Linked DNA regions of Homo sapiens: regions 1 and 3 are each linked to region 2. Evidence: fine-mapped expression QTL. A gene starts in region 2. Each other region holds a variant in brackets. All regions are shown on one strand. Distances are between the middles of the regions.

Region 1 (2,757 bases), 79 kb after region 2:
CAGAAACTAAACTCAGACCATCTTATTCTGGTTCTTAACCATGGATCTGACCGGCTTCTGTTGACAGGTATATCTAATTCATAGGTGTGTCCGTTAGGACCGTACACCTTAATAGCCTTAGTAGCCTAACCTTAATAGCATAAATTATTAACCATGTGCTGTGGATCTACTACTTGCAGGAAGGTTGAGGCCATTTCCAGGTTTAGTCACCCATCTTGCCCTTGGCCTGGGGAAATGATATTTCCCTCAAATAGGAAAATAAAGGCATTGGAAACGCCTGAGTGGGTTGCAATGTTAGAGTGTTTTGTTTTGTTTTGTTTTTGCCTCAAAAAGTGACATTTATTCAAAGAAAAAAATGACAAGATGTCCATCCCTTGGCTCCCTTCCCTCCCCACTCCTGCTGCTCCTCAGCCCCCCGAGATAGAGCCCTGGCTGGGGCTGGGTGGCAGGACAGCCCCTCAGATGAGGTCAGCAACATTGAGGGGCATTTCCTCAATGGAGGAGTTGTAGAAGATCTCGATGTCTCGAAGAGTCCTCTTGTCTTCTTCTGTCACCACGTTAATAGCCACACCTTTACGGCCAAACCGTCCACCTCGACCGATTCTATGGATATGGTTTTCCCTGTTGGTGGGAAGGTCATAGTTGGTGACTAAAGAAACCTGTTGCACATCAATGCCTCTGGCCAGCAGGTCAGTGGTAATCAAAACTGCTAGAGCCATAACGAAACTCCCTCAAGATCACGTCTTGTTCGTTTTGGTCCATATCTCCACGAATGGTGAAGACAGTGAAATCTCGAGCATGCATCTTCTCGGTGAGCCAGTCCACCTTCCTCCGGGTGTTGATGAAGATGACTGCCTGGGGTGATGGTCAGGGTTTCATACAAGTCACATAGTGTGTCCAGCTTCCACTCCTCTCGTTCCAAATTGATGTAGAATTGGCGGATACCCTCCAAGGTCAACACTTCCTTCGTGACAAGAATCCGAATGAGGTCCCTCATGAACTTCTTGGTCACCTCAAGCACATCAGAAGGCATCGCAGCTGACAGCAAAACTACCTGGGTGTTGCTGTTGAGCTTTTGGAATATGTCATAGATCTGGTCCTTGAATCCACGGCTTAACATTTCGTCAGCTTCGTCCAGTACAAACATCTTGATGTATTTGGGAGACAGGTATCTCCCGTTAAGCATATCAAACACATGGCCAGGGGTACCCACAATGATGTGAGGAGCTTCGTCTGCAGTTTCTGCACCTCAGCAC[G/A]CATGTTGGTGCCCCTGATACAGGCATGACAGGAGGCACCCATGTAGTCTCCTAGTGCCATGACCACCTTCTGTATCTGCTGAGCCAATTCTTGAGTGGGTGCTAGGAGCAAGGCCTGGGTGGCTTTTAGATCTAATTCAATCTGCTGCAGAATCAATATGGCAAATGTGGCCATTTTCCCAGCCCCAGATTGGGCTTGAGCAATCACGTGATAACCCTTGATACAAGGTAGAATGGCTCGCTGCTGGATGGCAGACGGCTTCTCTAAACCATAGGCGTAGATGCCACGGAGAAGGGACTCTGAGAGGTTCATGTCATCAAAGCTGTCAACAATCTCATTCCAGTTACTCTCAATGACACCTTTGGGCTCCATCCCATTGGGGCCGTTGTCTCTGGATCAGGAATCCTGGCTCGCAGACATGATCCTTAGAAACTCTAGAATAGTTTTTTGTTGGCATTTGGTTTTGGTTTTGGTTTCGGTAAGAGCAAAAGGAATCAAAGTATCCTAGTCTCTAGGATCCAGGGACCAGCCTCCCCTTGACTGGGGAAGGAAGATGTTGCCCTTCACAGGGAGGAAGGCCGGGACCTGGGAAGGTCAGAAGCTGGATGGGGTACCTATGATGTCATAGCAGCTCTCTGAGGTTGAGAGTAAGAGCCCTTTTAAGAAAGTAGATAAATCCCAGCTACTCGGGAGGCTAAGGTAGGAGAATCGCTTGAACCTGGGAGGTGGAGGTTGTGGTGAGCCGAGATCGTGCCATTGCACCCCAGTCTGGGCAACAAGTGCGAAACTCTGTCTAAAAAAAAAAAAAGTAGATAAAAGAGAACAAGCTAAAGTCAGAATTCAACTGGCCACTTGGAACTGTCCTTATACACCCTAGTCCTCATTTGACTGTTTCTCTTCTGTTTATGTGCCTTTTAAAAACCTTTTTTATAGCATCCTTCAATAACTCAACTGGTACAGCAGAGGACTATAGTCAAAACCTTTTTATTCTGAAATAATTTCAAACTTATAGAAAAGTTGCATTCTTGTCATTATTCTTAGTTACAGAGACCTCCTATATATTCTTTACCCAGATTTATCCATTTCTCACATTTTGACAAATTTGCTTTGTCATTCTCTCTCTAAATGCATTATACTCATTTTTTTCTGAATCATGTGAGAGTCAGTGCATATATTATGACCCTTTATCTCTTAATACTATAATGCATATTTCTCAACAACAAGAATATTCTCTTAAATAATCATGGTACATGTTTAGACAGGTGTGGTGGTGCATGCCTGTAATCCCAGCTACTTGGGAGGCTGAGGCAGGAGAATCACTTGAACCCTGGAAGCGGAGGTTGCAGTGAGCTGAGATCATGCCACTGCACTCCAGCCTGGGCGACAGAGTGAGACTCCGTCTCAAAAAAAAAAAAAAAAAAAAATCATGGTACAGGCTAGGCAAGGTGGCTCACACTTGCAACCCCAACGCTTTGAGAGGCTGACGTGGGTCAAGGTATC
Region 2 (2,757 bases):
GCCCCTCCCACACTGCTGAGAGCTGCTCCCAGGGTAACCAAGCAAAGTCAACAGCAGCTAGGCCACCTGGGGACGGGACCCTGGAGTATCTATTCCTAGCTCTTCCTATCCCTGGAGTGAAAGAGAGGGCTTGTCTGCACCCCCATTGCCATCTCCCATTCCCTGAGGTAACCACAGCATGCCTCTTCTTTCCCCCATCTCCTTCACCTGACTTTGGCTACCAAAAGCAGCCTTTCCCAGGAGGGAGGACACCTGGCCCCCAGGGGGGAGCAAGGACAAAGCCAAGTAATTCCAGTATGGAAAATGTGACGTGACCCAGGAGTCTGTGTCCCAGGTCCTGGTCACCCTGCGAGCATTGCTGGGGAAGGTACTTTGGGTATGTCTGTCCAGCCTATCAGCCTAGCTCAGACTCTCCCCTTCTCCTCTTTCTCCCTCCCAACTCCAGTCCCCATGGGAGTGTTTGGGATCCGTGCACAGAGCTTGGACTGCAGACCCATTCTTTTCTCTCCCTCTGTCCTCAGTAGAATGCAGAGTGAAACCACTGGGTTCTCTCACTCTAGGGTTGAGAGTCTGTCTATGTTGAAGCAGATAATGCCCCCATCAGACACAGACACTCACTCTCGGCACTGGCATGCGCACGCGCTTGCACAGACACACACACACACACACGCACACACACACACACCCGGAGTCAACAGCATTCATGGCACATCTACCAGGCAGGCAGGCAGGCAGGCCGGTGCTGGCTAGGGCAGACACACACCCTCTGCCTGGGCTTTCTCTCTCACACCCAGCCCAAGGCTCCTCCCACTCCCAGCCACAGTTCCTCCTGCCCTCCTCTCCAGCCTCTCCCCTTCCAAATCCAGGCCTAAAGGTGGGGGACAACTGGCAGCCAGGGACCCAGGCGCCCTAACTCCTGGAGCTTACTCCAGGCAAGATGACAGGGAAGATGTCTGTGAGCCCTGGCCTCAGCACCCCCAGCAACAGCCACTAGTCAACCAGTTTGCTCCTGGGACCAAAGGACTGAGGTGGGCTAGGGGAAGGGAGAGGCTACTTGGATCTGCAGGTGAAGGCTGAGCAAAGAGTAAGGGCAGGAGCATCTATTCTAGATCTGGCATACTCCTGCCCGGCCAATCCAGCACTGGGAGGGAGTGGGTACCGCCCCATTGCCTACCCTGGGGAGGCGCCAGAGACTGGCCTCGCAAGAGTCACAGCCTGGCCACAGACAACTCAACTAGTCCCCCCAAAAGGCAGAAAGGAGAAAAGTGCCAGAGAGAAAAGGTTGGCATCACGGGGCCAGGACACTGACCTCCTCTGCCAGCCGTGCCCGGCCTCCCAGAGGATGGAGTCACGGAAGCCTAGCAAATGGGAAGGGCAGAGACCCAGGCGTCCCGGGCCGCCCCGCCCAGTCCCCCTCCCGCCCACCCATCCCTCCGCCCCCCAGCCCCAGGGCACAGAGGAGGGAGCCGGGCAGGGGCAGGCAGGGGAGGGAGGAGCGAGGGCGGGAGGGGGAGGAGGGAGTTGGGCAGGGAGGGAGGTTGGGGGGGGGGTGGGGAGGGAGAAAAAGAAAGAAAATATTTTCCGTGTCCCCGCCTGCAGAGTCAGTGTGCGGTTTGGGAGAAAATGTGTCGGATATTTTGGGGCGGTCACGTGGGCGGGCGGGCTCCGAGAGGCCCCGGGACAGTCCCAGCCTAGAGCCGTGCCCCCCCAGGAGCCCCCCAGTACGGCGAGCCCCGGACATTGCGACGCTCCATCCAAGAGACTGCCCGACGCCGGGACCTCGGGGCTCCGCCGCCTCCCTTCCCCCTCCCACTCCAGGTGAGTCAGGCGGGGAAGCAGGCTCGCCCGCCCCGTCGCCTGGGTCCTCCGGCGAGGCGGCTGGGGGAGGGGGCGCGGAGGAGCTGCACGGGCGAATGCCCTCCCGAGGCTGGCCAGGCTGGCCGCCGGGCTTGAGGGGGGCTTCTTGCCCCGACCCAGGCCAGTCCTGCTGTGGGAAGGGAATGGGGAAGATTTTAACAGGCTGAGGATGGGCTGGGTCATCTGCCCTTCATTTTGGTGCATAGCAGAGGACAGCATTTGGGGAAGTCTTCAGCCAGGGGGCATTCCTCCTTATATTTTTGTGCTGGGAATGTGAGAGAAGACAGGGTTTCCTCTCGCGGGGAAAGACTACCACCCCCTTACCCCCGGGCTCTGAGGGGTAGATTTGATGTTCCATGCTGGTCCAAGTTCCTCCCTCCCCAGTGGAATGGGACAGCTTGGACATCAGAAGGCAAGGAAAACGTCCAGAGGCAAGTGAGCCTGGCCCTCCGCGTCCAGGAGTTCCGAAGGACTGGTGCATAGGATAGGGATCTGTGAACTTTCCTTGAAGCGCTGGATTCCCTCCCACACGTTCCCAGCCCAGGTGCGAGCCTTGGCTCCCTCCAGCCAAGGTGGGGGGCACCTCTGGAGTATTCTTGAGGGAAGCCCAAATGGAACAAAGAAAGAGCAGGAAGACCGGGACAGGGACCCAGGAGTGCTGGTCCCAGAGTTCCACTGACGCTGCCTCTCTGTCTTTAGCAGCTACGGCCCAGTTCCCTCAACCTGACCCAGTATGTAGAAGCCAGTCTCTGCAGGCGGCCAGCGGGTAAGAAGATGCTTGGTTGTTAGTGGTGGTGGGGGCAGGGGAGCCTGAGTAGGAGGTCTTCAGGGCAAGAAACTGAGATGACTGTCCCGCTTTAGGGCTCTGGTCCTGGGCAGCTGGAATCCCAATCCTCAAGT
Region 3 (2,739 bases), 21 kb after region 2:
GACCGCATGGACCTGGAGGAGCCCGAAAAAGTGGACAAGCTGCAGGAGCCACTGCTGGAAGCCCTGAGGCTGTACGCCCGGCGCCGGCGGCCCAGCCAGCCCTACATGTTCCCAAGGATGCTAATGAAAATCACCGACCTCCGGGGCATCAGCACTAAGGGTGAGTCATGAGTGGGTGTCCCCTCTCTGTCTTCCCAGGGCTGTTGGTCTCCCAGGTCGGACAGGAGGACACACAGAGACAAGAACAGAGTAGTTGAGAACCAGGCAATCTACACTGGAATCCTAGCTCTGCCACATAGTAGTGGGAGACTTTGGGCAAATTGCTTCTAAACCAGTACTGTCCAGTAGAACTTTCTGCAATGATGGGAATACAATAGTCATTAGCCACATGTGGCTATTAAGCATCTGAAATGTGACTACTGCAACTGCAGAATTGAATTTTTAATTCAGCACAATTCCAAGTATGTGTGTGTGTGTGTGTGTGTGTGTGTGTGTGTGTGTGTGTGTATATATATATTTAGAGACAAAGTCTTGGGCAAATTGCTTTACTTTTTTAATCTTGTTTGTAAACTGGGCTATTCTTCACGTACCTTGTAACGCTGTCTTGAGGACTAAATTAGTTAATATACAATGTAAAGCCAGGCACCATGGTGCACATCTGTAGTTCCAGCTACTCAGGAGGCTGAGGCAGAAAGATCAGTTGAGGCCAGAAGTTGGAAGCTGCAGTGAGCTATGATTGTACCTGTGAATAGCCACTGCAGTCCAGCCTGGGTAACCCAGCAAGACCCTGCCTCTAAAACAACAACAACAACAACAACACAACAAAAAAAACCTGTAACATATACAGTGTACTTAGAATTGTGCTGAATTAAAAATTCCATTCTGCAGTTGCAGTAGTCACATTTCAGATTGCCACATGTGGCCAATGACTACTGTATTCCTATCATTGCAAAGTTCTATTGGACAGTCCAGGCTTAGAAGGATGTCTGGAACATAGTGTTTGATAAATATTAGCTGTGGTAATAAATGTTATTAAGAGAACAGGACTAGGAACAAGTGACAAGCTCTGGACATTCGAGAGTGGGGTACTTGGGGAGTGGGGTTGGAAGTTGTGTGCATTGCGCTCGCTGAAGAGACAGCCTGAAAGAATGGGATGAATGGGCAGCAAGCCTGGTAGAGAAGGCCAGGTAGAGGTTCCAGGCAGAGGAGTGGCACCCAGGAAGCCTAGTGAGAAGAGGATGAGCTGGGGACGGAGAGGTGGTGGGCCTGTGCTGGGCGCCCCCTAGGGGAGTCAGGGGCAGTTGAGAAAGGTTAGGGAGATGGCCTTAAGGGCCATGTGCCTCTGTCCTCCTGAGCCTCTCTCTTTCTCTCTCCATTGTAGGAGCTGAAAGGGCCATTACTCTGAAGATGGAGATTCCAGGCCCGATGCCTCCCTTAATCCGAGAGATGCTGGAGAACCCTGAAATGTTTGAGGATGACTCCT[C/T]GCAGCCTGGTCCCCACCCCAATGCCTCTAGCGAGGATGAGGTTCCTGGGGGCCAGGGCAAAGGGGGCCTGAAGTCCCCAGCCTGACCAGGGCCCCTGACCTCCCCGCTGTGGGGGTTGGGGCTTCAGGCAGCAGACTGACCATCTCCCAGACCGCCAGTGACTGGGGGAGGACCTGCTCTGCCCTCTCCCCACCCCTTCCAATGAGCTCCTTGTTTTTGCCAAAGTTTCTAGGGGTGCCTCTGTGTTCATCCCCTTCCTGATCTAACCGGCTCCCTCGCCAGTCCCGGGGGCCTGCCCTGCTCCCACCAGGAGAGAGGGCAAAGGGATGAGCCTGGGTTTGGACTCTAAAATCTCAGCACTGCCCCATGGGTCCTAGACTTCCCAGGGCAAGAGGAAGACCCTGCCATTCCACAGCCCCTTCCTCTGCCAGGTGCTTGGCTCTCTGAGAGCAAACAGGAACACTAGAGACCAAAAAGGGGACAAAGGAGAAGGGCTGAGCCCACCTTCTTGCTCCTACCCTTGGTGCCTAATGCTGTGTGATGCACCTGCAGGGTGTGTGCTAGCCTCTGTGCCCCGTCCTTGTGCCAGGTCAAGGTGGGGGCAGGCTGGGCCCTGCATTTCTGGGGCAGGAACAGAGGGTGAAAGGGACAGATAGATGCAGGTCCATTCTGCACCTCTTGGCTCGGGTGCAGAGTTCACCCTGTGCCCTCCGTTATAAGTCCCTCCCCCAGCCCTGTCATGTGCCTTGGGCTCCTCCTGCCCTCCATCTCAGCCATTGGGGCAGGGACCCTCCTACACTACAGAGGGGCCAGGGGATCCCTCTCTCCCTAGTGCCTTCCACCCTTTACTCCCCAGAGCAGCTTGGCCCAGGGAGGGGGGATGCTGCTTAGCTGATCCCGCCCTGACCCAGAGGAAGCCTCTATTTATTTATTAGCTTTTGTTTACACCGTGGAATTGACCCCTTCCTCCAGGGGTCTTGGGTGGGGGAGCCCAGGGCCCCTGTGACCCCTCCTTTCTTCCTCCAATCCCCAGTTTGTATTTAGCTGCCAAATAAGATTCCCATTGGCTCCCTGTGTTCTCTTGGGGGGTCAGGGTGCTGTCCCCTCCCCTCTGTTTACATCTCCCCTCTACCCCGCTGTATCGCATATTGCTGAGTTTTCTATTTTTGCAAAATAAAGTGATGGAAACTCATGAGATGTGGCTCCCTTTAGGAGGTGGTAGGGAAATGACCAGCTGACCTGGTGAGGGAGCTGA

The links. PIP is the estimated chance that this variant, and not a neighbour inherited with it, causes the effect.
Region 1: its variant is fine-mapped to the expression of RARG in whole blood (TOPMed, PIP 0.91).
Region 3: its variant is fine-mapped to the expression of RARG in whole blood (TOPMed, PIP above 0.99).

The regions. Positions count from the first base shown.
Region 1 is chr12:53,152,192-53,154,948 of GRCh38, reverse strand. It overlaps the pseudogene EIF4A1P4. Among named protein-coding and RNA genes, the nearest start is that of ZNF740, 27 kb to the left of the region's middle. The variant G/A (reference allele first, on the strand shown) is at 1,257.
Region 2 is chr12:53,231,035-53,233,791 of GRCh38, reverse strand. It overlaps RARG (retinoic acid receptor gamma), which reads left to right and starts at 1,583. Exons shown (of 10, transcript NM_000966.6): 1 at 1,583-1,818; 2 at 2,557-2,623. RefSeq lists silencers at 1,398-1,447, 1,768-1,897.
Region 3 is chr12:53,210,506-53,213,244 of GRCh38, reverse strand. It overlaps RARG (retinoic acid receptor gamma), which reads left to right. Exons shown (of 10, transcript NM_000966.6): 9 at 2-160; 10 at 1,382-2,676. The coding sequence ends at 1,569. Among named protein-coding and RNA genes, the nearest start is that of ITGB7, 4.6 kb to the right of the region's middle. The variant C/T (reference allele first, on the strand shown) is at 1,484.